Linked DNA regions of Homo sapiens. The protein of the gene in region 1 purifies or fractionates together with the protein of each later gene. This does not show direct contact. Each region holds a gene or a part of one and is shown in the gene's direction. Other genes may lie near its edges.

Region 1 (4,135 bases):
GCCTGTAATCCCAGCAGTTTAGGAGGCTGAGCCTCCAGACCAGCTTGGCCAACATGGTGGGACCCCGTCTCTACTAAAAAATACAAAAACTAGCTGGGTGTGGTGGTGCGCGCCTATAATCCTAGCTACTCGGGAGGCTGAAGCAGGAGAATTGCTTGAACCTGGGAGGTGGAGGTTGCAGTGAGCCAAGATCGCACCACTGCACGCCAGCCTGGGCGACAGAGTGAGACTGTCTTAAAAAAAAGGAAATGTACATAAAGAAAAATTTGTCTATTTTTTAGCCAATTAGTCTATCATGTTGATATTTCTTATCAATTAGTCTGTGAGCCCATTGGATGCTATACTTTAATCTCATCATATGTTATATATCAGGAGCTTTGATTAGTGTCTTATTCATACATTATCATTATAAAAAGTCTTTCATAATCAACATTTGTGAAAGGTTGCTCTATATTATTAAAATCATGTTACTCTAAGACATTTGGGGAAGGGCTTACAGATTAATAGTAGTAGTAGTAGTGGTAGCAGCAGCAACCACTACCATTTATTGAGCACCTACTACATGCTAGGCCTATTGTGCTGTTAGTTTTACTTACATCATCCCATTGAGGCCTTGTGAAATAGGTTCTGCTGTTTTTTGTTTGTTTGTTTGTTTTTTACTTTACTGTTGGGGAACCTGGGACTCAGAGAGTTTACTCACTTGCTTGAGGTCACACAACTATTGAATGTAAAATGTGGACTAAAATATACATTTGTATGTCTCTAAAGCCTGGGCTTTTACCCCAAGATGGACTTTGAAGGCTGTCCAAGTTACTTAACCCTCTCTGAGTTTCCGTTTCCTCATCTGTAAAACTGAGGGGAGTAACACTTATTTTGCAGAGTTGCTCTGAAGATGAGAAATAATGGATCCCAGGGCCCAGGGGCACACAGTAGGCACTTAAACTGTGGTGATGTTTATGCATAAATGGGGCGTTAAAATGGGCAGGGGAAGATCTGAGATCCCGATAAAGGTATTGGGGAGCTGGAGAGAAGGATCTACAAATCTTCTTGAGAGCTGGCCTTCTCCCCCCCACAATACAGTGACCCAGTGAAACTCTGAGAGACAGGCGAGGGGGCAGGGGCCTGAATTTGGCTCCAGCAACCTCTGCAGGGAGTCCGGAGAGAGGCGGGGAGCTGGGAGGGGCGTAGAAATCCCCGTCGTCAGAGGACTGCAGGTGCCAGGCAGAGTTGGTGTAGGTGGGCTCCCCGAGCCCGGCGCAGGGAGGGGAGGAGGTTGGGGCGGGCCGGCAGGCGGGCGGGGGAGAGAGGAAGGCGGGGCTCAGAGCCGAAGAGGCTGTCCTTAGACAGCTCTTCTCATGCCGGGCAGTTTGCTGCATCTGGAGGAGCTCACTGGAGAATCTCCAACATCGGAGCGGGCCTTCAACTACCGTAAGTACCTACAAATGAGCGCATAGTTCAGTGGCTGAATATTAAATACTGGCCACCGGATCCTAAACAAAACCCCGAAAGAGTCTCCTTGCTGTAATTAATTGCCGTAAATCAAACTGCTCCCCAGTCTGTCCCCCCACCCGCTTCATTCCTGCCTTTCTCCTTTCCTTCCCGGATCCCAGACCTGCCTCGGTGAGAATCTCTGGGCACTGTAGATATCTCCCCTTTTCCTTCTCAGTCTTCCCTCCAAACCCTCAGCTGAGCATGTACCCGGCACCCCGCCGAGCCCAACCCCTTTGATTCCTGGAGCCCTCAAAGCTATGCAGGGGGCGAGCCATTAGACATTTCAGATATGTCACCCTCAAAAGCACTGCGGCGCTGCCTAAGGGTGGGGAAAGTGCTTGGGGTGGAGTAGGAGGGAAGGGTAAAACGGCTAGGCAGCCAAAGTTGGGGGTGGGGGTGGGGTGAAAGGCCAAAATGGGCGTGGCCAACTAACCCAAGGCTTGGGGCTGTTCTCATGTTCCCCCGGTATAAGATTCATCATCTGGGCTGAATATAAATGGTACAATTTCCTTAGTGATTGAGGAGGGGTCAGCCATGCCAAAAAGCCCAGCTTCCCTGACTCCCCTCAATCCCCCAGTAGGCAAAGATCCTGGTTTAGGGGTCCAAGTGGCAAGGCTGAAACCTCAGATGGCATTTCCTGGGTGTAATCCCAGGTTGAACCTCTCCCTTGGCAGTGGAACCTGGCTTCCCCCAAAAACTCCTGGCCCAAAGCCCCAGGGTAACAAAGCAACAGGGTAGCATCCAAGCTTTGGCCTGGCCCTGAGAGGAGTGGGAGCAAGGGACTGTAGGAACTGAGATGGAAAGGGCATCTTTAGGGCCCTACACCAGTTGGATGCCCCCTTTGAAAAGAAGAAAAAATAAGCATCTTTTTAAAATGTAATGTTCACTATGTGCCTGGCACTGTACATGTATTATCTCTAACCCAACACAACAATAATGTTAGGTCGATATTACTCCTCCACTTTACAGATAAGGAAAATTCAGAGTGGGTAATCTGAAAATCCTTTGATACAAAGTGAAAAATGTACAATGGACCTATGCTTCCTTGGATTTCTCACTGTCCACTTGTTCCCTACAGTCCAGATATTTTGAACACGAAATATCCTCCTCTTCCTGCTCCTCCATCCTACCCAGTGTTAGCACTGGGGCAAGTTTGAGGCTGAGGTCCAAGGTCAGTCTGGAAAAGCAAAATCAGTTCCTTTCTCTATTCTGGGAGCTGCCTCTTCCCCACTCTTCTGAGCTAAGATTTAATAACAGCTGGAGTCAGCCAGGACTTCAGACTCCCAGTAGAAAGTTGGTGGAAGAGAATTAGCTTGAGTTTGCGTGGCTGGGACATACCTTCCCTTGGTGAAAGGTTACTGTGGGGGGAGGTGGAGAGAGGCATGAAAGCTCAAGAGTCTACCTTGTGTATATGCAAGGCCTATGGTAAATAATGACTTTGGTCAGGGAGAATGGAAAGCCTCCCTGAACTCAAATATCTTTGCCGTATTTCCTGAGATTCAAACAATTCCATTTCCCTTAGAGGCAATCAACAAAACTGTTTAGAAGTTAAGGGCAACGAAAGAATCATTTAGACCTTATGTAAATTAACTCAAGCAGCTTGATTTTCTAACACATGCTTGACACTGGGGTATTGAGCTTTTAGGGGTAGGAGACAAGAATGAGAGTAATATTGGATCTAAAGCATTCTATGGAAGGGAAGGATATCCAAGGGATCAAGTGAGAGGGGTAAGGGAGGGTGAAGAGGGAGTGAAGGGTACCTCTGGGAGTTTAAATCATTGTTTTAGATCCATAGGCCTTGGAGTTAAACATGGATTCTAATTTGGGCTCTAATATTTAATATCTTTTGACTTTGGGCAAATTATATAACCTCTCTAAGCCTCAGTTTGTTCATCAGTAAAATGGGGATGGTAGTAATGCCCCCTCTCTTAAGTTGTTGGAGGACTCTCTCTCTCTCTCTATATATATATATACACACACACACACATATATACGTATATATATACACACATATATACGTATATATACACACATATATATACATGTATATACACATATATATACGTATATAAACATACGTATATATATATATATGCATATCTGAAAAGGTGACTCTGCACCTCCCATCTCCCCCATCCTGTGGAGCTTCTGCAGGCTATTCTGGGCTTCTGAGATCCCAGAGACAAATCCATATTTCAACAAATCTGACATCTTTGATACCAACAAAGACCTTGAGCAGGATAGGGAAGTGAGGGAAAGGAGCAAGGAGAGGAAGCAGCAGGTGACCTTGTAATACCCTGCATGCCTGTGAGGAAGTACAATGTAGGGTTGTCAAGTGCAATTTAGCCATCTAAACTAAACTTTAAGGAGCAGGACAAGTCCTCTGAGTAAAAACAATTCTGCTTTTAGATCCCACCACCTGCTGAGGAGAAAAATTCTTCAAGACTCAGAGCACACAGCCAGCACCAGAGGCCCCATGACCCTGGACAGACCAGGGGAGGGGGCCACCATGCTGAAGACATTCACTGTTTTGCTCTTTTGCATTCGTGAGTACAAGGAAGGGGTGAGGGGCAAGTGACCCTGTCATAGGTACCCACTCATTAGGGGTGGGAGAGGAAAGTATTGAGGTTTGAGCACAGGATGG
Region 2 (3,500 bases), on another chromosome or scaffold:
CCCCTGTCAGGCCGGCAGCCCAGGAGGGACTGGCCTCCCAGCAGGCCTGGATCCTGGGTGTGGTGGGACTCAGCTGCTGCAGGCATGGCGTGTAGAAGGGAGATAAAGTCTGACAGGTCACACAAAATCAGGAAGCCCATGGGTGATGGGCACAGCCTAGGGTCGGGTAATCCGGGAGATGGCAGCCTGAGCAGAGAGGGCGGAGGAGGCAGAGGCAAGGTGGGCTGGAGCTGCCTGTCCTGCAGGAGGGGGACAGACACTGAGTCAGTTACACCTGGGGTCGGGAGAGAGAAGTCTGCAGGGAGCTGCCGGGGCACAGCCAGGGCCTCCATGTGCTCACAGTGCGTATGCTGTGCTGTTACCTCTGCTGCATTATCTGTGTGTGCCGAGTGTGTATGCACGAGTGGTGCGTGTGTGCGCCTTGCAGTGCAGCACCCAAGTGTTTCTGGTGGTGTGTGGCGATGTGTCTCCGCATGTGCTCCATGGGCTCCTGTGTTTACTGTGTGGTGGGGACACTGTTGTAGTTTGTGTGCCATGTGCACAGTGTCTGTGCTTAGGTAATGGATGAGACATGTGCTCTGCGTCACTGTGTGTGTTTGTGGTCTGTGGGTGACTCTTCCATGTCTCTAGGTGGCTTGGATTGGGAAGCAGATCACTCATGTGGGAAGCAGTCCCCTAATCTTGCCTGTGACCCTACAGCCCCGGGGATGACAGCCCAGGGTTGTCACATAGGCTTTTCTGAGGCTTACCAGGCAGAGGGTCCCTCTGCTGTTGACATTATACCTTGCTAGACAGGGGCAGTGTCCCCACCCATGGGGCTGCTCTTATTCCAGTTGCTAGCAGATTCTGGGCAATGAGGCCTAAGAAGCATTCAGATGTGGCTGGCTCCAGCATTTGGATCCAGGTAGCCTTGCTCTATCACTGGGGATAGGCACAACCTGCTCTTACGGATTCTGAGCTGTGCCTGTTAGGCTCCTAGACAGAGCCATTTAGACACAATCAGGGGGCGCTCTGCAGTGGGTGGGGCTGGGTTTTTAACTCCAGGAGCTTTGGCGACTCTGGAGGCAAGAGCTTAGGTTCTAGAGCTCAATACACTTGGGAGGCCGAGTCTGGCAGATCACCTGAGGTCAGGAGTTCAAGACCAGCCTGACCAACATGGCGAAACCCCATCTCTACTAAAAAATACCAAAAAAAAAAAAAAAAATTAGCCGGGCGTGGTGGTGGCACCTGTAGTCCCAGCTACTCAGGAGGCTGAGGCAGAGAATCGCTTGAACCCAGGAGGCGGAGGTTGCAGTGAGCTGAGATTGCGCCATTGCACTCCAGCCTGAGCAACAGAACGAGACTCTGTCTTAAAAAAAAAAAAAAATTAGCCGGCTGTGGTGGTGCACACTTATAATCCCAGCTACTTGGGAGGCTGAGGTGGGAACCCGGGAGGCGGAGGTTGCAGTGAGCCAAGATCACGCCACTGCACTGCAGCCTGTGTGACAGAGCAAGACTCCGTCTCAAAAAAAAAAAAAAAAGAAAAGAAAAGAAAAGAAAAGAAAGAAAAACACTTGGATCCAAGTCTCAGCCTCATCACGAGCTTTAAAACCTTGGCTTAGTCCCCGAACCTTTCTGTACCTGCATTTCCTCCTTGAAGCAATGGGGATATGGCCCCGTCTCACCAAGCTGGTGTGAGGACTGAAGGCACATAGTAGGTCCTCAAGTTTTGGGAGCTCTTTCCTTTCTCCAGCCAGCCCTGGAGAATGGACACAAGGGACCTGGGGCTTCGTTGCTCTTGCTCCGGCTGTGCCTGTGGCTGACCTCCCACTGGTCTAGACTTAGGAGGACACTGGGATCTGAGCAGGCTGAGGCATCTTCCTCCACAGCACTCTAAGCGTCCCTTGGGATTTGATGTTGCTGGGGCTCTGCCTGTAACAGAGGAAGATCAGGCCTCACAGTAGCAGAGGACAGGAAGGCAGGCGCCCAGGGAGCCTGAGCAGTGTGAGAGGCCTGGCCTCCACCTCTCCTGACTCTCCCTGGGGAAGGTGTCTTTGCACCTGGACCTGGCTTCTGCTGCCTGCTCCCCATCCTCCACTCCTTGGGCACTGGGGCCCAGAGAGGAAAGAATCTAGACAGGCAGTCCATTGGTCCCTGAGAAACAAAGACTTTTTACCATAATCTTATAAGGCCTGAGTTTTCCAATCAGGATCTGAACTGAGAGGAGCACTTGAGATGAGAGCTCTGAGGGCTGTGGGGTTGCCTGGGAGTTACCAGGCTCCTGGGACATCAGTGCCCTGTCTGGGCTGTTCCTGTGAGCCTCCCCATGCACTAAAGAGCTGGAGTCGGAGATGGGCTTGCTGCCTCCCTGGGGTGCATTTAGAGACTCCTGGGGAACTCCCTTCAGTTGCTGTCTCCTGTGGGCCAGGGCTGTGAAGGGGAACCTCACCTCAGGGGACGGGTCACTTAGTAGGGCCCTGAAGGATGAATGGGATTTTTCCAGACAGAGACTGGCAGGAGCACTCTCCAGCAGAAGGAATAGCAGGTACAAAACCACGGAGGTGGGGAGACACTCTGTGGTCAGAAATGGCAGAGAGCTGCACATGGCAAGAATGTTGGGTGCATGCAGGGAGAGGACCCTGGGAAATCAAATGAGGCCAGGACGTGGAGAGCCTCGTGTGCCAGGCTGGGGAATTTGGACTTTCTCTGTGGGCTGCATGGGCAGAGCTGGGATTCCAGTTGAAAGCACCCTCTGGTAGCCAAGACTGAAGTCTAAACCTGCTTTGATGGCAGTGACCCTGCCCGGAGAGAGTCCCATATGAACAGGGAGTACAGTGGAGAATGGATGTTGGTGGGGGGGGGGGCGGTTTGGGAATGGGATGTCCTGGCTGATGGGGCAGTGAGGAGGGGAGGTGCCTCCAGCCTTCAGCCAGGATTGAGAGCCAAGTGTGCAGTGGGCCCTGCCTCTTGGCACCGTTCGGTCATCCACAGTGTGCTTGTTCCTCTCGTCCCATACAAAGGCCAGGGCAGGGGGTGCAGCTGGGGGGCCTGCCCTGCCCTTAGGGAGTCTCTGGGCTGTGAACGCCAAGCTCCAGAATGCGGCCTTCTAGGGGGGATCTGAAGCCAGATACCCAGCAGACCAGGATGTGTGTTTTAGCTCCAAGAGCCTTGGCAACTCTGGTGATGGAGAGAGCTCTGGAGCTCATTAAACTTGCAGCCAGCATGGCAGCCTCTTCCCGTTGCTTCTACATTGTTTTCCTGGTCTACCTCTGTTGTGCTCCAGGTCTGGTCTTTCTGGATCTGGGAGCCATGGCTTTGAGCCTCTACCCTGCCTCTCTCAAGTGCGCCCACATTACTCTGACCTTTTTCCAGCCTCTTCTAGTTCATAGGGCTGAGGGTTCAGCTTTTCAGTCCACTGCATTGTACTTGTCTCTGAATGTATCCTTCACCTGAGCTAGGCAGGGAGCTCCCTGAGGCTGGAATGAGGCCTTATTCAACTCTGTGCCAGGCAGAACTTGGTG

The links. Proteins that work in one complex are often made in the same cells at the same time.
Region 2: the proteins of IGSF1 (region 1) and KCNC1 fractionate together in Homo sapiens (co-fractionation; one large-scale study listed by BioGRID). This does not show direct contact.

What each region holds. Positions count from the first base shown.
Region 1 is NC_000023.11:131,286,507-131,290,641, reverse strand, and holds the start of IGSF1 (immunoglobulin superfamily member 1 isoform 1 precursor), read left to right. Parts: upstream 1-1,335; 5' UTR 1,336-1,428; intron 1,429-1,580; exon of another isoform or gene 1,581-1,620; intron 1,621-3,900; 5' UTR 3,901-3,967; coding exon 3,968-4,037; intron 4,038-4,135. UniProt on the Homo sapiens protein: Seems to be a coreceptor in inhibin signaling, but seems not to be a high-affinity inhibin receptor. Antagonizes activin A signaling in the presence or absence of inhibin B.
Region 2 is NC_000011.10:17,765,781-17,769,280, forward strand, and holds part of KCNC1 (voltage-gated potassium channel KCNC1), read left to right. Parts: intron 1-3,500.